Linked DNA regions of Homo sapiens. The protein of the gene in region 3 interacts with the protein of the main gene of each other region in a pairwise test. Each region holds a gene or a part of one and is shown on either strand. Other genes may lie near its edges. The genes, in order: SAXO1, ENOX1, ZMYND19 and TOX4.

What was found.
Region 1: the proteins of ZMYND19 (region 3) and SAXO1 interact in binary tests that used the Homo sapiens proteins (3 or more experiments, as listed by UniProt).
Region 2: the proteins of ZMYND19 (region 3) and ENOX1 interact in binary tests that used the Homo sapiens proteins (3 or more experiments, as listed by UniProt).
Region 4: the proteins of ZMYND19 (region 3) and TOX4 interact in binary tests that used the Homo sapiens proteins (3 or more experiments, as listed by UniProt).

The regions. Positions count from the first base shown.
Region 1 is NC_000009.12:19,030,191-19,037,174, reverse strand, and holds the start of SAXO1 (stabilizer of axonemal microtubules 1), read left to right. Parts: upstream 1-3,965; 5' UTR 3,966-4,266; coding exon 4,267-4,304; intron 4,305-6,984. UniProt on the Homo sapiens protein: May play a role in the regulation of cilium length. Stabilizes microtubules at low temperature.
Region 2 is NC_000013.11:43,783,973-43,791,395, forward strand, and holds the start of ENOX1 (ecto-NOX disulfide-thiol exchanger 1), read right to left. Parts: upstream 3,001-7,423; 5' UTR 2,680-3,000; intron 2,234-2,679; exon of another isoform or gene 1,656-2,233; intron 1-1,655. UniProt on the Homo sapiens protein: Probably acts as a terminal oxidase of plasma electron transport from cytosolic NAD(P)H via hydroquinones to acceptors at the cell surface.
Region 3 is NC_000009.12:137,587,500-137,594,599, reverse strand, and holds the start of ZMYND19 (zinc finger MYND domain-containing protein 19), read left to right. Parts: upstream 1-4,087; 5' UTR 4,088-4,336; coding exon 4,337-4,387; intron 4,388-4,412; exon of another isoform or gene 4,413-4,962; coding exon of another isoform or gene 4,963-5,196; intron 5,197-5,881; coding exon 5,882-5,941; intron 5,942-6,776; coding exon 6,777-6,883; intron 6,884-7,100. UniProt on the Homo sapiens protein: May be involved as a regulatory molecule in GPR24/MCH-R1 signaling.
Region 4 is NC_000014.9:21,487,173-21,494,195, forward strand, and holds part of TOX4 (TOX high mobility group box family member 4), read left to right. Parts: intron 1-278; coding exon 279-521; intron 522-1,417; coding exon 1,418-1,678; intron 1,679-2,000; coding exon 2,001-2,231; intron 2,232-5,123; coding exon 5,124-5,204; intron 5,205-5,335; coding exon 5,336-6,085; intron 6,086-7,023. UniProt on the Homo sapiens protein: Transcription factor that modulates cell fate reprogramming from the somatic state to the pluripotent and neuronal fate. In liver, controls the expression of hormone-regulated gluconeogenic genes such as G6PC1 and PCK1.

The DNA.
Region 1 (6,984 bases), about 120 Mb from region 3:
TACTTCCTAGATAAAATGCGGATATAGGTACTGGGTAAATACAGCCATTCCAAATGGGAGAAATTGGGCAAAACAAAGGGGTTACAGTCCCCATGCAAGTCTGAAATCCAGCAGGGTAGTCAAATCTTAAAGCTCCAAAATGATCTCCTTTGACTCCATGTCTCACATCCAGGTCACGCTGAAGCAAGAGGTGAATTCCCATGGTCTTGGACAGCTCCTCCCCTGTGGCTTTCCAGGGTACCGCCTCCCTTCTGGATGTTTTCATGGGCTGGCAATGAGTGTCTGTGGCTTTACCAGGCACACAGTGCAATTTGTCGGTGGATCTCCCATTTTGGGGTCTGGAGGATGCTGGCCCTCTTCTCACAGCTCCACTAGGTGGTGCCCCAGTAGGGACATTTCCCTTTCACATTGCCCTAGCAGAGGTTCTCCATGAGAGTTCCAACCCTGCAGCAAACTTCTGCTTGGACATCCAGGCATTTCCATATATCCTCTGAAATCTAGGCGGAGATTCCCAAACCTCAATTCTTGACTTCTGTGCACTCACAGGCTTAACACCATGCGGAAGCTGCCAAGGCTTGGGGCTTGCATCCTCTGAAGCCATGGCCCAAGCTCTATGTTGGCCCCTTTCAGCCATGGCTGGAGCAGCTGGGATGCAGGGCACCAAGTCCCTAGGCTGGACACAGCATGGGGACCCTGGTCCCGGCCCATGAAACCATTTTCTCCTAGGCCTGCGGGCCTGTGATGGGAGGGGCTGCTGTGAAGATTTCTGACATGCCCAGGAGACATTTTCCCCATTGTCTTGGGGATTAACATTTGGCTACTTGTCACTTATGCAAATTTCTGCAGCCAGCTTGAATTTCTCCTCAGAAAACAGGTTTTTCTTTTCTTTTTTCTTTCTTTCTTTCTTTTTTTTTTTTTTTATTATACTTTAAGTTCTGGGGTACATGTGCAGAACGTGCAGGTTTGTTACATGGGTATACATGTGCCATGGTCGTTTGCTGCACCCATCAACCCATCATCTACATTAGGTATTTCTCCTAATGCTCTCCCTCCCCCAGCCCCCTACCCCCCGCCAGGCCCCAGTGTGTGATGTTCCCCTCCCTGTGTCCATGTGTTCTCATTGTTCAGCTCCCACTTATGAGTGAGAACATGTGGTGTTTGGTTTTCTGTTCTTGTGTTAGTTTGCTGAGAAGGTTTTTCTTTTCTATTGCATTGTCAGGATGCAAATTTTCCAAACTTTTGTGCTCTGCTTCCCTTATAAAACTGAATGCCTTTAACAGCACCCAAGTCACCTGTTAAATGCTTTGCTGCTTAGAAGTTTCGTCTGCCAGATACCCTAAATCATCTCCCTCAAGTTCAAACTTCCATAGATCTCTAGGACAGGGCAAAATGCCACCAGTCTCTTTGCTAAAACATAACAAGAATCACCTTGGATTCCATTCCCAACAAGTTCCTCATCTCTATCTGAGACCACCTCAGCCTGGACTTTATTGTCCATATCGCTATCAGCATTTTGGGCAAAGCCATTCAACAAGTCTCTAGGAAGTTCCAAATTTTCTCACATTTTCCTGTCTTCTTCGGAGCCCTCCAAACTGTTCCAACCTCTGCCTATTACCCAGTTCCAAAGTTGCTTCCTCATTTTTGGGTAACTTTTCAGCAGCATCCCACTCTGCTGGTACCAATTTACTGTATTAGTCCATTTTCATGCTGCTGATAAAGACATATCTGAGACTGGGAAGATAAAGCAGTTTAATTGGACTTACAGTTCCACATGGCTGGGGAGGTCTCAGAATCATGGTGGGAGGTGAAAGACCCTTCCTACATGGCGGGTGGCAAGAGAGAAAAATGAAGATAAAACCGTCAGATCTCATGAGACTTATTCTCTATCATAAGAGCAGTATGGGGGAAACCGCCCCCATGATTCAAATTATCTCCCACTGGGTCCCTCCCACAACATGTGGGAATTATGGGAGTACAATTCAAGATTAGATTTGGGTGGGGACACAGAACCAAACCATATCAGATGGGTCAGGGTAAGTTTGGCTGGATGTAACAAAAGATGGACAGTAAGTGTAACTAGGTGAGGGGAGGTTGTCCCTACTGTCTAGCACTGATCTTTAGGTATATCATTGTTGAGGCTATTTTGTCCACACCATCTTCATCTTTCAAGATCTCTACCCTCTATTGAGGGCATGGATGGAGGAAGTGGGGAGTACCATGATTGTTGACAAGGTGGCCACCCACAAGGGCAGTTTGAATGGCAGGGGGCATGAACAGGCATTCTTCTGCTGAAAGATTTATGGATAATGTTTAGGCAGCCATCAAGAGAAGGCTGGTGTCCAGCACTGTATTTCCTCTGTAAGGACTGTGTGATGTTCTCTGTCAATGGCAATGGATGGCATGCAGGTTTTGCTTTGACTTCCAATAGCTCCCACCTCTTTTTTGTCTGGCCATGTTTCCATCCTCCCCTGTAGAGTTCTGACTTCCTACTGGGAAGGCAAGGAGCAGCTTCCCACCCCACTGTTCTTAAGAATGATCAATAAGCTTTGCTCCTGTCTGAATCTACCTTGCTGACTTCCTATAACTGGGGTTGGAACTCTCTCTCTGTAAAATGTCAGATAGTGAATATTTTAGCTTTTGTGGGCCAAGAGGCAAAATCGGGAATGTTTACACAAATTTTTTGAAAAAATTCAAAACTTTATTCACAGACACTGAAATTTGAATTTTAGGTAAGTTTCATTTGTCATGTAATATTATTATTTTAATTTTTTCAACCATTAAAAAATATGAAAACCATTCTTAGCTCAATGGCCAGATAGAGTCAAGTGGCCAACTGCAGACAATAGTTTGCTGACCTCTATTCTAGAGCCTATTACTGAAGGAAAAAACCTAACCCCCCCCACACAAAAAGAAACCCTCTGAATATTAAGTGTCTTGCAGTCCAAGATGCCTCTGACTGACTCATTCACTAAAATGAATGGAAAGAGTTAGGAAGCATAGGAAAGAAAAGCATAAAGATTGTCAATACTTTAAGCTCCCATTTCCCATAAGCAGGAAGTCAAAATGTTTTAAGTCCAAACAACTGGCCAGAGCAGTGTCTTTTGAACTTGCTTCATGACCAGAATCACCTGGCTTCTTGTTGAAGCTAGATTCCCGGACTAGAGGTTTTGATGCAAGGGAGACTTCTGGGTGGGGGTGTGCTCTCGGGATCAGGTAAGCTGAAGAAACACTATTCCAGGGGGTGTAAAGGAACCTCAAAAGCTGTAGTTCTTAAAGTGTGGTCCGTGGCCCAGCAGAACCAGCATTACCTGAGAGCTTGTAAGAAATGCAAGTCTTTGGCCTACCCTAGAAACACTGAATCAGAAACTGGGGGTGGGGTCTGGCAATCTGGTTTTCATCAAGCCAGGTGGTCCTGATGCCAACTAGAATTTGAGAACGCCTGCTTCAAGGCATCATTACCAGCATCTGGAGAAGTGATTGAGAACCCACCTGAGCAGTGAAGGCCTGGGCGCTCTTAAACCACTGTGTTCTCAAGAGCGCAGGTCTGTGGGTGAGAGCAATTCTAACAGACATCTGAAGCCAAAGGCCTAGGTTTCCACAGGAAGATCTGGAAACCCTGTTCAAGGCAAGCCTTTTGGAAGTCAAGGCTGTATTCCCCTAAGAGGGGGCACCATGGATCCTAGAGATAGCAAATGCCACCCAAGGTGATGGTGAGGGAGTTTTCAGCTTTTCTGCACGTGTGACCGTTTACTGCACCAGGAGCTTTCTAGTGACTTCCACCTTTTTCAGGTTTTTCCAAGGTTCACCGGGGAACCCCTGTCCTGGGCCTGCCAGTGAGGTGCTGGGAGCTTCCCGACCTCACAAGCGGCTCTTGTGATGTAATTGCCACCTGAGGCGTGCCCCTCCTGGCCCTGGCGACATCACAGAGGCTACCTGGGCACGGACCCCGCAGCTTCCTGGGGCCCAGTCAGCCGCTCCAGGTGCTTAAGTCTGGACTGCGGAGGCCGGGGCGGTGGCGTGCAGGGTGAGGTCTCCCGGGCTGGCGCGCGTGCAAGCCCCCTGCTGCTACCTCGCGCTAGGCCAGCTCCAGGAGGGCAACAGACGACAGGACATTGCAAAAGGGCCACTTAAATTTTCCTTCGAGTAAACAGAACACCTGCCAAGACCCTCGAGCCTGGGCGTGCCCCAAGACAGGTGGTTGGGGTCTAGGAGTCGGCTGCAGCTGGCGATGCTCTGAGGGGACGTCAGGGCCTCAGGATCGCCCCTATGAAGACGAAGTGCATCTGTGAACTGTGCTCCTGCGGGTAAGGTGGCCACGCCCAGGGCAAGGCTGGGGGAGCCTGGGTTTTCAGACTCCCGAGGAAGGGAAGCCTCCCCCAGCTGCTTCATCAGGCGGCATCACGGTGGGTTCGTCCACTTGCTACGTTTTTTAAGCCACAATTGTGTCAACTAGCGTTGTGCCCGCGGACGCCACATCAGTTCTGGCGAATGTGGCTGTTTTCGGGCCTTCTGTGCCGCTTCACTTGAGAACTGCAGGAGGGTTGAAAATGGGCGTGACCGCGCAGTCTGCACTCCCTTCCCTGAAGCCCAGAAAGTGTCAGCCAAGGAGGGAGAACACCTGGCCCAGTGGGACCAGTCTTGCTCCTTTTGGGAAAGTGATAGGATGGGAGGAGAATTCCTGTAGTATAACTGAATTTCTCATTCAGAGAGATTGTTACTTTGTCAGAGAAGTATAAGGTATTAGTAAAACTTGTTCCACATTGTGTAGAGTTGAATAAGGATAATGAAAACATTACTTTCACAGTCGCCTGGCCTGCCAGGTCTCCCTTCTAACCTTTAAGGACCATCTTTGGGTGGAAGCGCAGTAAAGGTGGTCCTGGGGGAAATCATGGACTTTAGTCAGAGTCCCACGGGCTGACTGGTCTGCTGTCACTCACATGATCTCTTAGAGGCTCCTTCTATCTGCTTCCCAGGGCAGCTGGGTTTCTGCTTGGCTGGGGCAGGGAGTGGGCAGCAGAGGAGCAACAGGCAAGAGGGTTCTGAGGTCACCTTTCCTGGGCTGTCATTAATTGTGGGATCTTAGATTGGTAACTAAACTCCAGGTCATAGTCGCCTCATCTGTACCAACAATACGTACCTCATAGGACTATTGTAAGAGTTAAGATCATGTATGTGAGTCCTGGTACATGGATTGTGCTTAATATGTTAGTGTCCTGAAATCTGAAAAAAGGGCAAATATGACACATGCATATAAAAATGGTATCAGTAGTGTGGAGAATTAAAGGGCACTCTAAAAACTGGATCAGCAACCTTCTATATCTCTGGCATCAATAAATGGTTCCCAACTCTGGCTGCTGATTAGAATCACACAGGGAGTTTGAAAACTATCAGTTGCTCAGGCCGTTGAATTGATACTCTCAGAGTGGGCCCTGTCAACTGTCTAAAGGTGATTCTGGCCATTTGCTAGGACTGGGACTCACTGAACTAGATCATGTACAAACGTGGGTCTTGCTTTTGAGCTTTGTTAAGTGGGGCCAGAGCAGTGTATAGTCTAGGACTACATGTTACCAAGCAAAACCTTTTTTTCTAAGGCCGCCTTTCTTTTTTCTTTTTGGAGGCAGTGTCTTGCTCTGTTGCGCAGGCTGGAGTGCAGTGGTGCCATCTCGCTTCACTGCAACCTATGCCTCAGGGTTCAAGTGATTCTCCTGCCTCAGCCTCCTGAGTAGATGGGATTACAGGCACATGCCACCATGCCTGGCTAATTTTTGTATTTTTAGTAGAGACAGGGTTTCAACCATGTTGTCCAGGCTGGTTTTGAACTCCTGATCTCAGGTGATCGCCTGCCTCGGCCTCCCAAAGTGCTGGGATTACAGGCATGAGCCACTAAGGCCTTCTTTCTACTGGGATGCTTTACATTACCCTCCTGTGTCCTCCTGCATTGTTCTAGGCATTGGGATTGAATGTATAAGACATAGTCTCCATCTTTGCACAGCGTGCAGTCTAGGTAGGAAGGCAGAATGCTCATTAAGAGGTGCAGAGCATATATAGTGAGAAGTCTCCCTCCTGCCCCTGCAGTAGGGTTATGACTCATTTGGGTGTTCCTTCTCTGACTCTGTTCTCATTCTGTCCCTGCAAAGGAGTCACTTTCCATTGGAAGCAGAGTCTGTTCTTGTGTCTCTTCTCCTTTTCTTCTCTCCTCATCCTGTATTTTCTCCTCCATTTTATGGTTTCAGCCAATAGTTTCTCCTGTCTTCTGAATTCCAGTTTCATTTTCATCTTCTCAAAGTGCTTTGGTGATCCATCTGTCTCATTAATCTCAACTTCAACAACCTTCAAACATTATTCTGGTATCTGCCCCATTCATGGTGCCAGCAATCTTCCATTCACCCTGGGTGAAAATTTTGAATCATCTCTTACTCTCCCTCAAACAGAACATTGAATCTTTTTCTTCTTCTTATTTTTTTATTTTTTTTATTTTTTTGAGATGGAGTCTTACTCTGTCGTGCAGTGGCGCGATCTCTGCTCACTGCAACCTCCGCCTGCTGGGTTCAAACGATTCTCCTGCCCCAGCCTCCCAAGTAGCTGGGATTACAGGTACCCACCACCATGCTGGGCTAATTTTTGCATTTTTAGTAGAGATGGGGTTTCACCATGTTGGCCAGCTGGTCTTAAACTCCTGACCTCAAATGATCCACCTACCTTGGCCTCCAAAAGTGTTGGGATTACAGGCGTGAGCCACCGAGCCTGGCACATTGACTCTTTTCTAAAGTCTGGGTCCCTCCTCCATTGTAATCTTTCTTTAATTGGTCCCTTCCCTTTTATTCCGGTTACAACCTCCCTGGTTCTCTCATTTTTGTGTTTGGAAACTGGTCCTAAATTACCTTCCTAGTTTTTTTTTCTCCCATGATTCCCTTACATGAAACTACACCTTGAATTGGATCAGGTTTCTTGGCATCCCCTGAGTGGACCTGCTGATGTCCCTTT
Region 2 (7,423 bases), on a different chromosome or scaffold from region 3:
TTGTTTTTCATTCACAGTAGGTGGTTGCCAGGCAACAAAATACTATTGTCTGTTTCCATGATCTATTGGCCAATTCTACTGGTGATAATGCTTTCTACAGTTTAAAACAGGGCCACCTTTTGGACAAAAAGAAATGAGAAAAAATTCTAAGGATGACAATAACATATATACGAATAAATACACTGAATGTACCCTAAAATTACGTGTATAAATATACAACTGTGTGCTGATAGACATACAAATATTTTGCATGTATGCATATGTGATTATATACATTCTCCTACATACAAACCCATCTAAATTTAATAGGCCCACAACTTGAAACTAAATCCCTTAGGGAAATCAAGGTATGAACTAGAGAAATAAAAACACAGAATTATTTTCTTAACAATAGCAATAATTTCCAATTTGTCACATATATCAAATCCTGTTTCTTGAATAGGAGGTCCTCCAGTCAGAAAAGCAATCCTGTCTACTTATATAAAAATGATAATAATGGAAAGCCTTTACCATCTACTTTAGAATCATGTAATACGTTTAATATGTTGATTTACTATCATATGCTACCAATGTGTACAAAGATAATTCAAAGAGTGTTGCTGTTTACAACCAAGAATCTTAAATTTTATTCATCTTAAAAATAATTGAATTGTTCTCCATGGAATAGCCTCATGTGATTCCCCACTTTGTTTTGATATGGGTCCCTGGGGAACAACAGTCATGCTATGTTACTCTTGCATATTTCACTAGCTTACAAATAAAATAACACACAGTGTACTCAATATAAAGTTGTCAACATTAACTTGCATCAGTTGCTGTTTGTTTCACATTGACAAGGCTTCTAAAGATAAGAATTACAATATTCTTAGATGTACAGACACAACATCAAAACAGCCTGAAGGAATTAAAGCTGGAAAATGCTAGAGGCAATCACGCTTTGAAATGAAGAGAAATCAGTATCATTTATACGTACACATATATTTCTTCAAAGGCTCTAAATAATGCCAGAACAATATGCATTTTATGCAATGCTCATCCGTCTTCCCTCACAATATTCCGAAAGCACTTTAACTGTTTAACGCATCTCCTCCAAGAGGGCTTTCACTTTTTCAAACTCATTATCACTTTCAAATCTGTATATTACAAGAAACTGGAATGAGCAATATCCATTACATGAATAGACATTATTAATATAAAGTCTCTATCAAAGTGGCAACGCTAGTAAAACAAAAGCAGAGTGTGTTAACCATAAACTAAGTACCAGCCAATATTACCACTTTGCTTGACAGAGCCGTCTCCAACAGCACGCACCCACCTCTCGAGCGGGCCCACCAGCTCAGCTTTCCAAGCTCGCTCACCTGCGTCTCTCCTCCAGGAATCAATTTCCTTCCCACTTTCTCCACCCTCTTCAGATCCCTTAAGCACGCTTCATTGCTTTCTCCAAACTACCAGACTCAAATCTGCAGCCCAGTTGGCCAGGAACCTTTCCATACGCACGTATTTCCTGCATTCTCCTGGGTCTGCTTTTAAAAATTGCTACCACCAAACAAATGCAATCTTAACAAAATTGGGATTACAAAGCCAGTTTTTTTCATGTAATGTTACAGCAGTGAAAGATTGAGGGAGAGAAAAGGAGAGAAGCAGGAGTGTATCTGGGTGAAGAAGCGTGGCTCAGTGGCTATACAGTGAGACGCAGAGATTCCACAGAGCTGGGCTTGCCCACCTGTCGACCCCACTTTCCCCATGTGCTCGCCGCGGGATGACAACCACAACACTCCAGAACCACCCCCCTTCCGAAAGAGGGCGGGGTTACGCCTTCAGCCAATCAGGACCCGCGAGCCCCGGGTGTCCAACCTATGGGGTGGCTGTGGCCGTGCAGGGGGAGGACGTGGGGTGGTCTGGGAGGGGCCGCGTCCGTGGGAGGCTCGCACGTGTCGGGTCCGGAGAGGCGGGGAGGCGGCCGGCGTCCAGCGGCCGAGGCGCGGGCTCTGCACCCTGGCAGCGGCCGAGTCCGGCTGCCCCAGTGCCTCCTTTACCTCGCGTTGGGCCAGGCAGGGCGCGCTCCCGCCGACGAAGACCTGTCCAAGGTGTCCGAGCTCCCCGCGAGAGGGGACAGTCACGAATAACAACAGTACCCAGCGCAGACTAGGCGGGGAGGAAAGTTTCCGGCCCGCAGCAGAGCGGAGTCCGCCAAGGCTGGAGGAAAAGGGATGCAGAGCGGGAGGGTGAAAACCTGAAAGAAGAGGGCAGCGGGAACACTGTGTGGGCAGGAACGGGTCCCGGGGGCGACGCCCGCAGGGGGAGACGGGTGCGGGGTGCGCTGTCCAAGGTGCAGGGGAGGTGACTGGCGCGCGGCGGGCGCGGAGCCCGGAGCTGACACTGGCTGGCGGGCGGAGGGGAGAGCGGGGAACAGCTGTCTGGGGCGCTGGGCACCCCCGGGCGCGTAAAAGTGAGGGAGCTTGAGACGGGGCACGGCGGGGAAGGGCGTGGGGGCTGCACCGAAGCCCCCACGCGTCCACGCACCCCTCCTCACCAGCCTCACCTCTAGCTCCACTCCCCTCCCCCCTCGCCCACTCCCCTCTCAGTCTAGATCCAGGTGCCGTGGCGGGGGTGAGACCAGAGGACCCCGGCTCGGAGCCCGGACGCCCCAGGGAGGCTGCGGGCCCCGGAGCTGCTTACCTGGGGCCGCCGTATGGGGAGCGGAGGCAACCCGCTGCGCGGAGTGGGGCGCCGGGCGCGGCGCGGCTCCTCCTAGCCTCGGCGTCCTCCTCCTCCTTTGCTTCTCCCGGACTCTGTCCCGGGCACGGAGCTGGGAGACGCGGCCGGGCTGCAGTCGCCGTTCCCTCTGCTGCCGCCGCCGCTGCAGCAGACAGAGGACGCCCCGTGGCGGCTGGAAGCCTGTGTGAGTAGCGGCGCCCGGGAGAGCGGGGATCTGCTGAGGGGCGCTGGAGACTCCGCGGCTGGAGGCGCGCGGGCGTGCGCACGCGCGCCTGCGAGTGTGAGTGTATGGGTGCGCGCGCGCCCACGGGGTGGGGGAGTCGCGAGGGGAGGGGGAGAGAGGCCGAGAGATGCTCGTAGGGACCGAGGCAAAATTCTACGACCCCGGAAATCCGTAAACGCGGGGAAGGAGGATCGAACGCGTGTCTCGCTTGGAGAAGCTGCCCACGGGGCGGCAGCAGAGGAGGAGGGGAAGTCAGCGAGGCGCGCTAGGGCTCCGGATCCCAGCCCGGCAGAGCCGAGCGGAGCGCGCAGCCACCGATGCAGCAGAGGCGGCGCCCGCAGCCCACGGTCGCGCTGCCCCCTCTCGGGAGGGGCCGAGGCCGCTCGCTCCCGCCACCGCCGCCGCGGTCGGGACTGCTCTACTGGGAGCGGGGGAACCGAGAGAGGGACCGCACGGTTGCTACGGCGACCTTGGAGGGGCCGGGCCCGCTGAAGGGCCAAGAGAAGAACCCGGGCGCACGTGGCCGACTCCAGGCTGGAGCGGGCGTGTTACAGGATTGTGGGCTTGGGGTAGACGGTGGAATTGGGCCGCGTGGCCTGGGCAGATGATGCGGGGTGTGCGGCCCAGAGTGGCTCGGCCGGGGTGCGGTCAGCATTCAGGTTGGTAAGGGTGAGGGGATCCTAACCCCAGGTGACATGTTGCCTTTTTTTCCTCCTTGGAGGCTACTTTTTCTCAAAGTTACCCACTTCCCAGGTAAGAATGCCGGCCTCCTCTTTGTTAGGATTCAACTTAGCTGTGCAGGCATCTAAGCAGTGCCTCCTTAGAGTCAGGCTCGTCCAAGAACCGCTCCCACCACCTCCCCACACACACCCACATCCCCCGATCCTCCATCCCAACTACATTGTAATACTTCAGAAATAAATGTTTAAAGCACATTTACATTCTCTGCCTCTTAACAGATATATTGTCTTAGTAGTATACTTTTCCTTGCTTATTTTAAATTCTGAGTGGGATTTTATTCACACAAGCATTTCTTCAAGGGTCGTAAGGTCTGGGTAATACTTGAAATACCCTTTCTGGCAGGAATCCTCAATGCAGGGATTGTGTTTTGCACACTTTTGCATGCCTTCCAGTGCTTAGCATAGTACTCTGTACTTTGTGAGTTCCCTGTAAATGTTGAATGAATGACATTGTTTTCTAGCTTCACGTAACCTGAAGGCAAAGACTTGGATGCTGGGAAAGTCATTACCACCCCACTAGGCTTGCCTGATTTTAACTTATGCCATTTCCTTGTGTGTGGCTATTTTTCCCCCTGGCGGTCAGAACCCCAATGCAAAGAAAGAAAATAATACTTATCCATTGTGCACCCTTAACAAAGGATGCATGTAGAAGCACTCTGCAGGGACCCCAGTGGGATGCCCTGGGTGTGAGGGGGCCAAAGCTCAGAACCTAACCTCTCAAAATGTGAAAGTCAGTGTTCACCAGCAGTTTATACTGTCCCTTCTAGAGCAGAAGGATGGGGAAAACAGTTTTAAGAGAAATACACTTTTGTTTTTTGTTTTTTGAGACGGAACCTCGCTCTGTCACCCAGGCTGGAGTGCAGTGGCGCGATCTCGGCTCACTGCAACCTCTGCCTCCCGGGTTCAAGCGAATTCTCCTGCCTCAGCCTCCTAGTAGCTAGGATTACAGGCGCCGGCCACCACGCTCGGCTAATTTTTTTTTTTTTTTTTTTTTTTTTTTTTTTTTAGTTTTTAGTTTTTAGTAGAGACACAGTTTCACCATGTTTTCCAGACTGGTCTCCAACTCCTGACCTCAAGTGATCCGCCTGCCTCGGCCTCCCAAAGTGCTGGGATTACAGGCATGAGCCACCGCTCCAGGCCAGAAATACACATTTCTAATAGCTTATCAGGTACGCATTTTTCTCCTGTAAAGAGTAGTGTTCATGGACACTGACCAATACATGCAGGGTCACCCCAGACTGCTAATTCTGCTGTCTGGTGTAGCACCAAGTCCACATCCTTCGACCTCGGTATTTCTACAATCATCGTCTTAGAAGCAGAAGTCTTCAATTTTGCATTTCATGCTAAATTTCAATTCCTTTGAACTCAGGCCCGCCTATGAGCTGCTTCTCTCTCCACTCATGATACCACAGCTGTGAAATATAACTGAAATAAAGTGAAAATTAAAATGGATTTATTTGGGTACCGTGTGTTCTTTAGTGGGGGTCCCTTTAACTGATTTATCTACCTTCACTCAATTGACAATCTTCTTAGAAGACATTTGTTGTGATATTGGAGCTTTTTTATTAGGTTGAAAGCTTACTTAAATTTCTCACTTGAAAGGAAGCTCTAAAACTTGCAAAAGAAGCAGAAAAACTCTGATACCGAAAATGGACCCTTGACAGCCAACCTATAGAATGGGTATGAGTCAGAATTTTCCAAAACAATTTTAAAGCTTCATTTTCCTTAGAAAGTTGCTTTTAGGGTTTTGTTGGGCTCAGAAACTAATACCGGAAAATATGGCACTTTGACATGCTGGACTGAAGAAGCAGCCTCAAAGTCTCTCTGACCCTCTCTCTGCCTCCTGTCTCTCAGTCGTCTGTCTCACCCAAAGCACAGGATGAAATTGTTCTCTGAAGGTCTTTCATCTGCCTAGAAACCAGATCTGCCAAAGAAGAACGCACTTGCCTTCCCTGAGTTTTTATTAATCTAACTCACGTCGTAGGAAGAAAGATTGAAGCCTGTCAACACAACTGGACATACTTTTGTCACACTCCTCTGCGGGCCCAACAGACTTTATCCCAGGCCATTTTATGTTCACCAAGCTCATTGAATTCCACTAAAAATTCTTTACTATCCCCCTTAAAATCATCCACATTTCCCTTTCTATTCTTCCCCTATGAAGAAGGGTATATGAGCATCTGTGTACCCCACTGGGTTATTGGGCAATCATTCTCCTGCAATTCCCTTGGATTATGCACATGAAAATAAGTTTTGTATGTCTTTTCTCCTATTAATCTGCTTTTTGCGAGGTGATTTTCAGTGAACCTTCAGAAGGTTGAAATCCCTAGTTTCAACAGCTTCCCAAGTGCTTGTCTTACTTGGTGGGTGGGAGGAATGTTAATAAAGCTGTAACTTCTCTGATGACCACCAAAGGGGACAGTCTTGTCTTCGTAAAAACAAATATAAGAAGCCAGCACCTAAGAATGTAGGCATATCACAAGCTTAATGTATGTTAACTTAAAAATAATGTATGTTAACTTAAATAAGTTAATGTATGTTAAAAGGTAATAGAAGGAAAGAATAACAACATAGATATATAGGTTTCTGACCAACTTAAACATAAAAGTTTGGAGGAGCAAATAGGGTTATATGCTATCATCCCCATAGCTCCTTCTGCTACTTAAGTACTAGGTAATAATAAAATGTACAGCTGAGAGGTTCATTTTTATTTGTTATTATCAGCCGGATTTAAAATCAATAGCATATTTGTAAAAGTTCTATTTTTCTTCCTAAAGGGAATGTTCCTTAACATAACTGCTTTTTTCAGTTTGCAGCAGTGCAGTAAACTAGTCAATCATTAACTTAAAAACACAGGATGGTGAAGGTGTGGGGCCTGTGGAGAAACACTCTAAACTTATTTGATCACAACTGTTTTGTCAGTCTAAACTAAAAAAAAAAAAAAAAAAAAAAAAAAAAAAAAAAAAAAAAAAAAAAAAGGCTTTCTACCTTTAAAGACTGATGCATTTAGACTGTGAGATGTACCGTGAATTCCAAAGTCAACTCCTCATTCTAGGAGCCCATTGCCCCAAATCCTCTGAAGTGAGAAGGCAGGGACCGTTAGCTGAAATGCTGTTGATTTTAGTGGCTGTGAGCACACATAAGGATACAGGTCATTTCCCTTATAATTAGGTCCCAGATCACTTAGTCCATTAGAGTTTTAAATGATAAAAAAAAAAAAACACCTTGACCTGCACCTGGAAAGAAAGTACCAACACAGTCCAGAGTATAGTACAGGAACAAGAAGCAGCCTCAAGTCATCCTATTTGTATCCATGTCTTTAAACATTGCCTTATTCCACATACTATTTAGGAAAACTTAATTCTGACTGGAGATCAGACATCTTTAGGAAGGTAAAAAAAATCAGAGAAAAAAATGTTATAGTTTATACTAAGCAAAACAAGACCGGTTTTCTTTCTTAGTCATCATTGCTGACATTTGGGGTGCAGGTAGATATACTTGGTGTCAGTGGTTCTAACAGTTTATGGAGCTGTGTATTTCCAAGAAACTGAAGAAAGCTATGGATCCTTTCTTCAGGAAAATGAACCTATTAATGTATAAAAAATGTTTAAATAAAATTTCAGGGAGTTAAAGGAACTTCCTCTGAAGCTCACATTAAGAGCTACTGCCTAATATAGATTAATTGCACCATGACATTTTATGGCTAAAGGGAAAAGAATTGGTAGATTTACTAATCTCACTT
Region 3 (7,100 bases):
CCGAGTAGCTGGGATTACAGGCATGTGCCACCACACCTGGCTAATTTTTGTATTTTTAGTAGAGACAGGGTTTTGCCCTGTTGGCCAGGTTGGTGTTGAACTCCTGGCCTCAAGTGATCCACCCACCCCGGCCTCCCAAAGTGAGCCACCACACCCAGCCCCACCTCTCTATTTTCAAACATGCCAGACATGTCGCAGCTTAGGGCCTTTGCACAGGCCGTTCCTTCTGCCAAGAATGTTCTGCCCTGTATAGCCACACGGCTCACTCTGTCTCCTTCCACTGCAAGTTCCAATGCTGTTTTCTCAGAGGACGGCTCTGCCCACCCCTGCAGCAGGGCCTCTGACTGCCTTATGGTGATGGACTTGTTCTCCCCATTGCACTTCTCACTGGCCAACGCGGTGTATGGTTCCTCATTACGTGTATGTTCTGCCCCCCTCACTCGAGTATGAGCAGGGGCTTTCATTGATTTTGTTCATTGGTGTGGAGCAGTTTCAGCAGTGGGAGGGGTGAAAGCCCAGCTGGAGTGGGCTGTCAGGAGACTTGGGCGGTAGGCAGAATGCCCCCCAAAGGTGTCACGCCCTTATGCCTGCGCCTGTAATATTATGTTACATAACAAAAGGGACTTTGCAGATGTAAGTAGGTTACCAATTAGTGACCTTAAAATAGGGAGATTATCCTGTTTATCTGGGTGGACCCAATCTAATCACAGGAACACTTAAAGGCATAAAGCTTTCTCCAGCTGAAGGTGGGAGAAATGGGACAGAAAGGATCAAAGACGTGAAGTAGTAGAAAGGCTGGCTTTGGCCGGGCACAATGGCTCACACCTGTAATCCCAGCATTTTGGGAGGCTGAGGCGGGCGGATCACTTGAAGCCGGGAGTTCAAGACTAGCCTGGCTGGCATGGTGAAACCATGTCTACTAAAAATTTAAAAATTAGCTGGGCATGGTGGAGGGCACCTGTAGTCCCAGCTACTCGGGAAGCTGAGGCAGGAGAATCACTTGAACCCGGGAGGCGGAGGTGGCAGCGACCCGAGATTGTACCACTGCACTCCGGCCTGGATGACGAAGCCAGACTCTGTCTAAAAAGAAAAGAAAGTCTTGCTGGTTTTGAAGATGTGAGCGACCTCTAGAAGCTGAGAACAACCCCGGGCCGGCAGCCAGCAAGCGGAGACCTCATACAACCATGTGATGAATGTCAACAACCTGAAGGAGCCTGTAGCCCGGGTCTCCCCTAGGGCCCCTGCTAAGAGCTGAGGCAGCTGACACCCTGATTTCAGCCCTGAGACCTGCAGCAGAGAAGCCAGTCAAACCCACCTGCACTTCTAATGCACAGAACCGTGAGATAATGGGTGCTCTTTTGTGGTTGGTTGTTATAAAGTGATAGAAAACGAATTAACTAGGAGATAAGAGGAGACGCCAAGTACAGACAACCTGTTAAAAACTCTTGCTGGGATGGGAAGTAGGAAAATGAGGCAGTGGCTGGAAAGGGATGGGGGAGTCAAGGGCTTCTTTTTAAGGTGCCTGCCCCTGGGAGAGGGAAGCTGCAGTGAGAGGAAGCACCGCCCCAGCGTTACATAATTCCACCCTCGCAGGACACAGAGGCAGGGGTGCCACATTCATACTTGGGTAGAATGTGTAGATAAAGCAGCCGGCTTGTGGTGGACCAGGTATGAGTTCCCAAGCCAGCTGGGCACTGCCCGCAGCACTGCGCTGTGTCAACACCTGCAGGTCTTTCTCGGCTTTGGAGCCAAGAAGTCACCTTGCCAGGAACAGCCTCCAACCAATGACTGCAAGGTGAGAGGTGAATGCTGGGTCCCCTTGCAGCAGGGTGAAGGGTGAATGCCTTGGCTCCCCTGGCCCTCGGGGAGGGACTCTGAGGATGGTTCCTACACAAGCGCCTGCTACAGTAACTGGACTGGTAGCACCCCCTTCCCTGCCTCACACCCCTACTCTCCTGCTGGTGTCTCCTGGGGTCTTCTCTCAAGCTAACAATTTGGACTTTTTTTTTTTTTTGACGGAGTTTCACTCTGTTGCCCAGACTGGAGTGTGGTGGCACAATCTTGGCTCACTGCAACCTCTGCCTCCTGGGTTCACGCGATGTTCCTGCCTCAGCCTCCCAAGTAGCTGGGAATACAAGTGTGTGCCACCACATCCGCTAATTTTTGTATTTTTAGTAGAAACGGGATTTCACCCTGTTGGCCAAGCTGGTCTTGAACTCCTGACCTCAGGTGATCCACTTGCCTCGGCCTCCCAAAGTGCTGGGATTACAGGTATGAGCCACCAGGCCCGGACAAAATTTGGACTCGAATCCATTTCAAGTCAACCTCTGGGGGAACCTGGACTATGACACCAGTGCTTTTCAACTACCCTAGGGAGCACCCACCAAGCTCCACTTCTTTTCACAAAGCAGTTGCTCATAATCTCATCACACCCTTGCAACTCCATGAGGTTGAGATTGGTAGGGCAGGTACTTTTTTTTTTTTTTTTGAGACGGAGTCTCGCTCTGTCGCCCAACCTGGAGTGCAGTGGCACGATCTCGGCTCACTGCAAGCTCTGCCTCCCGGGTTCAAGCCATTCTCTTGCCTCAGCCTCCCAAGTAGCTGGGACTACAGGCACCCGCCACCACGCCCGGCTTTTTTTTTTGTATTTTTAGTAGAGGTGGGGTTTCACCGTGTTAGCCAGGATGGTCTCCAGCTCCTGACCTCGTGATCTGCCCGCCTCGGCCTCCCAAAGTGCTAGGATTACAGGCATGAGCCACCGCGCGCGGTCGGACAGGCATGTTTTGAGCAAGGCCCAGCCTGAACCCCAATGTGTGTCTCAGGCAGGCCAGGACTCATCAGCCCCTTCAGTCCTCTAGGGTGTCTGGGGTACTGGCAAGTACCAGGGGACCCAGAGATGGAACGTCTGGGCTCACTCATGTACACCCTTTGCAGGCTGGGGCACGGTGGCTCATGCCTGTAATCCCAGCACTTTGGGAGGCCGAGGTGGGCCGATCACCTCAGGTTGGGAGTTCGAGACCATCCTGGCCAATATGGAAAAACCTCACTTCTACTAAAAATACAAAAATTAGCCGGACATGGTGGCGCGTGCCTGTAGTCCCAGCTACTCGGGAGGCTGAGGCAGGAGAGTCGCTTGAACCCGAGAGGCAGAGGCTGCAGTGAGCCGAGATCGTGCCACTGCACTCTAGCCTGGGTGACAGAGCAAAACTCTGACTCAAAAAAAAAAAAAAAAAAAGCAAGAAAAGAAAACGGAACCCAGCAAGCCAGAAAGGAGCCTGTGCAGCTCCTCAGGTGCAGGAGTCGCCCTTGAGGCAGGGTGAGGCCTCCTCACGGGCGACTGGACACCGGCGGAGCAGGACGCAGGACCTAGCCCCGTTCGCTCCAGGCTGCAGGGGAGCCACGCTGCCCACCACGGCGTACCCAGTCCCTCCCTGAGCGGGTCTCGGCTTTCCCGCGGAGCCTAATGGGCCTCACTGGAGTTCCGTTTCCAGACGCCTTGGACCAGGCTGCTCTGGAGGTCAGCCGCCCCCGAGGCTGAAGAGCCGGCGGCTCGGAGAAGGCTGCGCGGGAGGCCGCGCCCTCCGGGTCGCGTGGGCCGGGCGTCCGCTGTCTCTCCAGAAACACCCGCGTCCCGCGGCAACGGCCTCTTCCTAGCCCGCCTCGCCCGCTCCCCGCCCGCCCAGAGGGCCCCGCACGAGCTCCGTCCACCTCCTCCTTCCGCGCTCGGGGCCAGGACGGCGGCGGGAAACAGCTTACGGAGGCTACCGCAAGGGAGGCGAAAAGCAGCCAGCTCGCAGAGCTCCACGGACCCGGCGCGAGTCCCCAGCCACACTCCGCACTGCCCCTCTAGGCGCGGCGCCGCTGCCCGCACAAAGCTTCCCGCGAAACTGACGTCGGCGCGCGCAGGCACCGCCCCCGGCCTCGCCCCTCCCCCGCGCTCGCCCCGCTCCCCAGAGCGCCGGCGCACTCGCCCTCCTCCTATTGGTTGTTGCGGGGCGGCGCGCGCCGGTCGGCGCCGTGCGCGCCTAGCCATTGGCCGAGCGGCGGCGGGCCGGGGGGTGTGTCCGGGGCTGCGCCCCGCCCCTCCGCTCCGCTCGCTGTGGTGCGCGCGGTGGCGGTGGCGGCGGCGGCGGCGGCGCGTGGCAGGTCCGGCGGGCGCGAGGCGGCGGCGGAGGCCCGAGCCCGGCCCAGCCTCGTCCCGCCCGGAGCCCGCCTGGCTGCTACCCCGACCCCGGCTCCGGTCCCGTCCTGTCCCGGCGCGCCGCGGCCTCGCCCCGGCCCCCGCTCGGCGCCTCCCGAGGGAGCGGCGCTGCCGGCCGAGAGCGCAGGCCCGGCCATGACCGACTTCAAATTGGGTATCGTGCGGCTCGGCCGGGTGGCCGGGAAGGTGAGCGGCGCGGAGCCCGCGACCCGGCCCGTCTCGCCCGTCCAGGCCTCCGCGCGGGGCCGGGGGCGGTTGTGCGGGCGGCGGCCGGGGCGGGGGCGCGGAGCCCGGGATGGGCCCCAGCGGGGCGGGGGACGCTGCGCGGGCCCGGCTGCTGGCCCCGCGCGGGTGCAGCTTCCTCTCGCAGGCCGGCGGGCACGCACCCCTCGGCTCTGGGGTGCACCTGGCCACCCTCGGCCCTGCCCTGCCGGAGGTGGAGGCCACGGCCCTGTCCCGAGCCGGGTGCGGAGATGCGTGGCTCGAGCCCGAGCCGCGTTCTCCCGGAGCCCTCCCAGTGGTGTCGGCGATCCGGGGCCTAGCGCGGCGTCCGGGCTGCCAGTGCGGCCACACGGTTTAAACACAGCGCCCTTTCCGAGGCAGCGCCACTTCCACACCTCTCGCCGAGGCGGGTCTGGTGTGGGCTCTTCTGTGCCTCCCAGTTCTCAGCAGGGCTTCAGGCTCGTTTTAACGCTGCCAGGGGTTGGCCACGTTAGGCTGAGCCTCAGACTCGGAGCAGAGAGGAAGAAGCCTGGGCCCTGATGCTGCAGACTCAGGGCCTTCCTCGACTTCTCTTCTTACTTGGCCCCCACGCTCCACGTTTGAGGCTGGGGATTCCATGGCACCTGTGGGCATTGAGGCTTGGCGGTTTCTCGGAGCCACCTGTGCAGCTGCACCAGCCAGGGTCCTTACCCGGATGGGAGCCCTGTTCCCGTCACCAGCGGCTGCGGCTTTTGGTGGGAGAGAGGAGCCGAGGCAGTGTCAGGCGGCGTCAGGTAAAACAGGTTCAGATCCCAGAAGAAAAACTGCCAAGAGGGAGACTGGCCCGTTCTGGGACCTGTTCCTGTTTCCTGCCCCTGCTGCAAGAGCATAGGCAGGGCCTGCTGGGGAGGAGGCTTTTTTCCACCAGGGAAGGGTGGGCTCTCCAGTCAGGTCGGAGACCAGAGACCCCTTCTAACTCCACCCATGATGGCATTGTCATCCCTTACAGCTTTTCTTTGGAACATTTCAGATGGACAAAAAGCTAAAAAGGGTAATCAGTGAGTAGCTCAGCTTAATAAACACACCCTAATCAAAACCTTCTGGCTCTTCTGCCTCAGCCCCGGCCCCTCCCTCAGCTCAGTGAAACAGTCTTTGCCTAGGTTTATTGGTGCGTTGAATGTTCAGTGCCACTGTTGGGGTTAGCCCTGCGAGGATGAAGCCTGATACCAGCTCCTCTGGCGCAGACTAAAGTGGGCAGCTGGCTTTTAACCTGTCTGCCTGTGTTTTGTCGTAGACTGCACCACCCCAAACGGTGGAATGAGGCCCCCATGTGCTGAGCTGTCTTGGTCTGAAGAGGCCTGTAGTTACTTTCCACTTCACAGGAAAATGCAACAGGCTCCTGCCTGTTCTGGTTATAAGGTTACTGCACCTCACGCAGATCCCAAATGTAATGATTTGAAACATGTGGTTAACTTCCAGACCAAATACACGCTGATCGATGAGCAGGACATCCCGCTGGTGGAGAGCTACTCCTTTGAGGTAAGTAAGGATGGCTGTTCCCTCCCCTGATGCTCGTGGTCAGTGCCCAGGAGGGTCACGAGGAACGAGCTCTCTCCCCTGTGCTGCAAGAGCAGGCGGCCCCACAAGTGGACAACTGGTGCTGGCCTGTGAGCCCTGAGCCGTCAGCCCCACTTCGAGCCGTGGCCCTGCAGAACCTGGCTGTTGCTGCCACTGGAGCCCACTGTGGCCCACATGGCCTGGCGACAGTGGTCTTCCTCACTTTCACCCCAGCTGCCAGCTCCTCTTGAAAGCAAATGGAATGTTCTCATGTTTGTGATTGTGTCACGTGGACCATGTCTGTTAGCTCGAAGACCCTGCTCTTTAGAGCTAGCCACCTCTGCTGGGCCTGCCTTAGCAGTCCCTCCTGGCTGCCCAGCTGCCTCCCGTTCTCTGCTCTCATGGGGTCTTCCTGCCTCTTCCCAGCTTCCATTCCTGCCGCTGAGCTTGGCCTCCCTCACCATCCTTTATCTCTGTGCCCCACACATTCACAGTAGTGACCTCTCCAGGGGGTTCTCTATCTCACTGCACCGTGGGCTTTTTTTAAGGGTAGGAAAATGTATTTGTCTATGTCCCATTGTATTTTGCAGAGTTGTTTGTGAGTGTTTCTTGCTCGAATAGACAGAGTGGTGGTGGGCCACGCTGGCCCCTGGGAGCCATGTGCCTGTGGGAAGCTCTGCACTCCCCAGGGTCTCAGGGACAGGGCTGGCATTTGTCCCTCTGGCTTGCTTGTTTCACTTGGTTTTTCTAAGAGGGAATTGAAGTGTTGCTGAGAATTGGAGGTTTTTTAACAGCTCTTTCCCTTGTTCCTTCTCAGGCCCGAATGGAAGTGGATGCAGATGGAAATGGTGCTAAGATATTTGCCTATGCCTTTGACAAGAACCGAGGAAGGGGCTCTGGGAGACTCCTTCATGAGCTGCTGTGGTGGGTGTTTCCAAGCTGTCTCTGCCCCCCGCCACTGGGCTCCTGGGTGAGCTCCGATGGCACAGGGCGCCTGGAGCCCCCTGCCCCGCTGAAGCCCTGCCTTGCCTTCCCTGAATCTCGCAGTTATTTTTGTGTCCTTCACCACTAACCCAAAGGAACGAATGATTTGTATGTTGCACTTCAAACACCAAGTGGACTTTCTGCTGGGAGCTTGCCC
Region 4 (7,023 bases), on a different chromosome or scaffold from region 3:
AGGCATAATTTAAGACAAAAGAGACGGTAATGGTAGAAAAGAGATAAAAGAATTGAAAATTGTGACTGATGTTAGCAGCCTTGAATGTACCAAATGACCAAGGGTATCAGAAGAGAGATTGGTAAAAATAATAGGTTCTAAGAAATTGATTATAAAATAGGATCCTAAGCAGAAAAAATGCATCCTGAGAATCTCTAGTACCCCATTATGTTCTTCACTTAGTAGTATGCCATTTCTCCTCTTTTCACTAATTCTTTTCCCCCTTTTTTCCCCTACAGACATTCCATACACCAAGCTTGGGTGATGAGGAATTTGAAATCCCACCTATCTCCTTGGATTCTGATCCCTCATTGGCTGTCTCAGATGTGGTTGGCCACTTTGATGACCTGGCAGACCCTTCCTCTTCACAGGATGGCAGTTTTTCAGCCCAGTATGGGGTCCAGACATTGGACATGCCTGTGGGCATGACCCATGGCTTGATGGAGCAGGGCGGGGGGCTCCTGAGTGGGGGCTTGACCATGGTAAGGGGCAAGACATTGTCAGGCTTACCCCAGCTAATGGGCATGGCATTAGGGGAGACAAAGTTACTCTATTCCCTGCTACACTTGGGTATTACTTGTTTCTCTTCTTGTGGCTAAAGGCTCACCAACAAAGACTTAATTTCACCTGAATAAATGAAATTTACCATGTAGGTAGATTTTACTTGAAAAATAATTTAAAATTGTACAATGTCTGGTTTGAAAATTATTTATTGTGGTTTTTGGGAAAAAGTGTTTTCTGCTTTTATTATGGCCTTCACATCCTAGGATTCAAATTTGAATGTGATAGCTGGCACACGGAGGGATTTATTCAAAAATGGCCTGAATCACGTTGAGCAGCCAGCAGAACAGAGCTTAAAAAAAAAAAAAAAGTCTGAGCCAAATATAGTATTGTGGATTAGTATGTAATATAAATCAGTATATTGGGCTTCCAGCACATCGAACCAGTAAGCACATCTTCATACTCTATATTTGATGCCAGACTTTAATATTGGCCTTATTTATGCTGATTGCCTATGTATTACAATTTTAAAAGCTATTATTTTGGGAGAGTACAGATAGGAAGTTTTTCTTTACTCAATGTGTTGTCACTACCTATATATTACTGAATAAGTTGATAGCTCTTTGACTTGTCCAACAGTGCGACTTCTCTGATTATTTTTAGTTCTTCTTTTGAGTGCAAAGAAGTAAATTCATTAATTTCTGTACTTTTTTAAAAAGCTTATTTTTTTATTTTCATTTTTGAAGACTATTTTATGTTTTGTATTTTAAATGATACAATTTGGGTAGGCAGGGAATTTATAAGCTGTCTTAAATTTAGGGGGGAAAAGTGGTTTTTTTTATATTTAGTGTTTAATTAGTCCTTCTGCTTCTCTCAGGACTTGGACCACTCTATAGGAACTCAGTATAGTGCCAACCCACCTGTTACAATTGATGTACCAATGACAGACATGACATCTGGCTTGATGGGGCATAGCCAGTTGACCACCATTGATCAGTCAGAACTGAGTTCCCAGCTGGGTTTGAGCCTAGGGGGTGGCACCATCCTGCCACCTGCCCAGTCACCTGAAGATCGTCTTTCAACCACCCCTTCACCTACTAGTTCACTTCACGAGGATGGTGTTGAGGATTTCCGGAGGGTGAGGCATTCCCTGTCAAAATCAATTCTGCTGTGATAGTCTGGGATAAAATTTTTGGGATACAGAGCCTAATCAGTATTCTTTACCCTTGCCGTGCCATCTCCTCTGCTGTTTTCTGGGTATGGGGTTCCACCTCCCAATTTCCAGTTTATAATTCTCCTCTCAATCCCTATTCTTATTGGTTCTCCATATTTGACTAATGTCTTTTAATGCTATTTCTATGATTTTTAGCATTTCTGAAAATTCCATACATGTGGCTAGTTTCCAGACATAATACTTGTCATTGTCCATTGTGTAATTCTCTCTTTTTTCTCTCCTACAGCAACTTCCCAGCCAGAAGACAGTCGTGGTGGAAGCAGGGAAAAAGCAGAAGGCCCCAAAGAAGAGAAAAAAGAAAGATCCTAATGAACCTCAGAAACCAGTTTCAGCATATGCTTTATTCTTTCGTGATACACAGGCTGCCATCAAGGGACAGAATCCTAATGCCACTTTTGGTGAGGTTTCAAAAATTGTGGCCTCCATGTGGGATAGTCTTGGAGAGGAGCAAAAACAGGTGAGCAAATATTGAGGAACTAGTAGTGAATGTTCCAGAAGTTTTTAAAGAGATAAAAATTGAGGTTTTCTTTTTTCTTACATGTCCTTATCTAATATCAGCTGTTTGTTAATGACACTTAAATATCATCCCTTGTCTTCGAAGTTGCAGCCATACACTCACTCCAGAAAACCTATTTAAATTTTTTTTTTTTGAGACAGAGTCTCGCTCTGTCACCCAGGCTGGAGTGCAGTGCCGTGATCTCAGCTCACTGCAAGCTCCGCCTCCTGGGTTCACGCCATTCTCCTGCTTCAGCCTCCCGAGTAGCTGGGACTGCAGGCGCTTCCACCACACTGGGCTAATTTTGTTTTTGTATTTTTAGTAGAGACGGCGTTTCACCATGTCAGCCAGGATGGTCTCGATCTCCTGACCTCGTGATCCACCCGCCTCGGCCTCCCAAAGTGCTGGGATTACAGGCATGAGCCACTGCGCCCGGCCTATTTAAAAATTATTAATAGGCTGAGTGTGGTGGCTCATGCTTTTAATCCCAGCACTTTGGGAGGCCAGGGCAGGAGGATTGCTTGAGCCCATGAGTTCGAGACCATCCTGGGCAACATAGGGAGACCCCCGTCTCACAGAAAATTAGCTGGGTGTGGTGGCATGTGCCTTTGGTCCCAGCTGTGGAGGCTGAGGCGGGAGGATTGCTTGAGTTCAGGATATAAAGGCTGCAGTGAGCCATGTTTGTGTCACTGCACTCCAGCCTGGGTGACAGAGCAAGACCCCGGCTCAAATAAATAAATAATAATTGTTATAGGCCGGGCGCGGTGGCTCACGCCTGTTAATCCCAGCACTTTGGGAAGCCGAGGCAGGCGGATTACGAAGTCAGGAGATCAACACCATCCTGGCTGACATTGAAACCCCGACTCTACTAAAAATACAAAAAAATTAGCCGGGTGTGGTGGCATGCCTCAAATCCCAGCTACTCAGGCGGCTGAGGCAGGAGAATTGCTTGAACCCGGGAGGCAGAGGTTGCGGTGAGCCGAGATCATGCCATTGCACTCCAGCCTGGGCAACAAGAGTGAAACTCCATCTCAAAAAATAATAATAATTGTTACAGAAGTACTGCATCTTTACAATAACTCTCAAAAATAGCTACCATTTCCCGCTTTTAAGGTGGAAACTGGAGCCCACTGCCCAGTTAAGGTCATATAACATTTAAGTGGTAAAGTTGAGACACAATCCAGGTTCTTTAACTCTTCCCATGTACTTTCCACTAATAATGTCTCCTATAATTCCTCATGTAGTGTCCTTCTGTTCAATTTTTAGATATTTAACTTTTCTAAGTCTCATTTTTTCCCCCATTTATAAAATTAGGCTATTACTTGATAAGCTGCATGCTGTGGCTAACTCTCAAATCCACTACCAAGTTTGGATTTAGAATTACTTGTTTGTTTGTTTTTGAGATGGAATTTCGCTCCTGTTACCCAGGCTGCAGTGCAGTGGTGCAATCTCAGCTTACTGCAACTTCCACCTCCTGGGTTCAAGTGATTCTCCTGCCTCAGCCTCCCAAGTAGCTGGGATTACCGGCATGTGCCGCCACACCCAGCTAATGTTGTATTTTTAGTAGAGACAGGGTTTCACCGTGTTGGTCAGGCTGGTGCCAAACTCCTGACCTCAGGTGATCCGCCTGCCTTGTCCTCCCAACGTGCTGGGATTACAGGTGTGAGCCACCGCACCTGGCCTATTTTTTTTCTTTCTTTTTCTTTTTTGGATTTAGAGTTTAAAAACTTTTTAGAGCTAGCCCAGATTCAAAGGAGGGGGAAATAGGCTTCAGCTCTTGAAGGGAGAAAGGTCATATGGGAGGAGTTGTTGTGGCCATCTTTGCAAACAATTTACCACATTCCATAAGGGAAAATATACTGGTTAGACACAGTCCCAGGCTAAGACACAGTTTTTGGATTAGGGTTTATTTTGTATTTATTTATTTATTTTTTTGAGACAGAGTCTCACTGTGTCGCCCAGGCTGGAGTGCAGTAGCACAATCTTGGTTGACTGCAAGCTCTATCTCCCAGGTTCACGCCATTCTCCTGCCTCAGCCTCCTGAGTAGCTGGACTATAGGCGCCCATCACCACGCCGGGCTAGTTTTGTTTTTGTTTTTTTTAGTAGAGATCGGGTTTCACCAGGTTAGCCAGGATGGTCTCAATCTCCTGACCTCGTGATCTGGCCACCTTGGCCTCCCAAAGTGCTGGGATTACAGGCGTGAGCCACCGCACCTGGCAGATTAGGGTTTATTTTTGTTACAGAAGTGAGCATGGGTTGATGTTTGCCTTAAATGTAGCTATTCTCGGCCAGGCGTGGTGGCTCACGCCTGTAATCCCAGCACTTTGGGAGGCAGAGGCAGGCGGATCACAAGGTCAGGAGATCGAGACCATCCTGGCTAACACAGCGAAACCCCATCTCTACTAAAAATACAAAAAATTAGCCGGGCGTGGTGGCGGGTGCCTATAGTCCCAGCTACTCAGGAGGCTGAAGCAGGAGAATGGCATGAACCTGGGAGGCAGAGCTTGCAATGAGCCAAGATCACGCCACTGCACTCGAGCCTGGGCGAGAGAGCACGACTCTGTCTCAAAAAAAATTTAAAAAAAATAAAATAAATGTAGCAAAATAAAATAAATGTAGCTATTCTTGCCAGACTCCTGTCGATTGGTTGTCTTTCAGAGGTATGCTCAGTGGAGTGAGTCTGCCATGGAGGTTGTCTTGACTGTTAGCTTTCAGAATTGAATTCACTGATAGAGGTTGTCAGTGATTAGACTAAGATGAATTGTCATTCATTGATAAATAATACAGAACTATCAGTCTTTCCTAAGAGTATGGGGAGTTTTGTTTTTTTTTTTAAAGTCTCTTTTTTGCAGGTATATAAGAGGAAAACTGAGGCTGCCAAGAAAGAGTATCTGAAGGCACTGGCTGCTTACAAAGACAACCAGGAGTGTCAGGTAAGAGGGATAGGATAGAATGAATATTTAAACCAGTAAGAAGTTTTTTGGAAGTGTTTGTTAGCAGTTTTAAGAAGTAAATACCACCAAGTGATTGATTAATTGATAGATTGATTTATGTCTTCTTTTAGGCCACTGTGGAAACAGTGGAATTGGATCCAGCACCACCATCACAAACTCCTTCTCCACCTCCTATGGCTACTGTTGACCCAGCATCTCCAGCACCAGCTTCAATAGAGCCCCCTGCCCTGTCCCCATCCATTGTTGTTAACTCCACCCTTTCATCCTATGTGGCAAACCAGGCATCTTCTGGAGCTGGGGGTCAGCCCAATATCACCAAGTTGATTATTACCAAACAAATGTTGCCCTCTTCTATTACTATGTCTCAAGGAGGGATGGTTACTGTTATCCCAGCCACAGTGGTGACCTCCCGGGGGCTCCAACTAGGCCAAACCAGTACAGCTACTATCCAGCCCAGTCAACAAGCCCAGATTGTCACTCGGTCAGTGTTGCAGGCAGCAGCAGCTGCTGCTGCTGCTGCTTCTATGCAACTGCCTCCACCCCGACTACAGCCCCCTCCATTACAACAGATGCCACAGCCCCCGACTCAGCAGCAAGTTACCATTCTGCAGCAGCCTCCTCCACTCCAGGCCATGCAACAGCCTCCACCTCAGAAAGTTCGAATCAATTTACAGCAACAGCCTCCTCCTCTGCAGATCAAGAGTGTGCCTCTACCCACTTTGAAAATGCAGACTACCTTAGTCCCACCAACTGTGGAAAGTAGTCCTGAGCGGCCTATGAACAACAGCCCTGAGGCCCATACAGTGGAGGCACCTTCTCCTGAGACTATCTGTGAGATGATCACAGATGTAGTTCCTGAGGTGAGCCTTTGTTTTTAAGTCTTTAGTCTAGTGGAAATGTATAAAAATGTTTTTGGTTGACCCAATAACAGTGGGGGTTGCTACTAGCATTTAATGCCCAGCAACCAGGAGCACAAAACATCCTGCAGATGGGAGTTCCTTGCAGCAGTTGACTTCTCTTACCCAAGGTACTCATACTGTTTTTTTTTTGTTTGTTTGTTTTTGAGATGGAGTTTCACTCATTGCCCAGGCTGGAGTGCAATGGTGCGATCTCGGCTCACTGCAACCTCTACCTCCTGGGTTCAAGAGATTCTCCTGCCTCAGCCTCCCGAGTGGCTGGGATTACAGGCATGTGCCACCATGTCCGGCTAATTTTGTATTTTTAGTAGAGACGGTTTCTCCATGTTGGTCAGGCTGGTCTCGAACTCCTGATCTCAGGTGATCTGCCTGCCTCGGCCTCCCAAAGTGCTGGGATTACAGGTGTGAGCCACTGCACCCGCCCTGTTTTGTTTTGTTTTGTTTTGTTTTTCTTGAGACGGAGTCTCGCTCTGTTGCCTGGGCTGGAGTGCAGTGGTGTAATCTTGGCTCACTGCAATCTCCACCTCCTAGTTCAAGTGATTCTCCTGCCTCAGCCTCCCGAGTAGCTGGGATTACAGGCGCCCACCACTACACCCAGCTAATTTTTTGTATTTTTATTAGAGACAGAGTTTCACCATGTTCATTGGGCTGGTCTTGAACTCCTGACCTCGTGATTCGCCCGCTTCGGCCTCCCAGAGTGCAGGGATTACAGGCGTGAGCCACCGTGTGCCCCATAGTGTTTTTAGTGAGATACATTAAGACAGTCTTCTGCCCCAGACCACTCCTTAACTAAGCAGAGGTCACTAGTTCAACTGGACAGGATATAGCCTAAACAGTTATTATTCAGAGTTGTTACCCAAGGATCCTAAACTTTGGACATG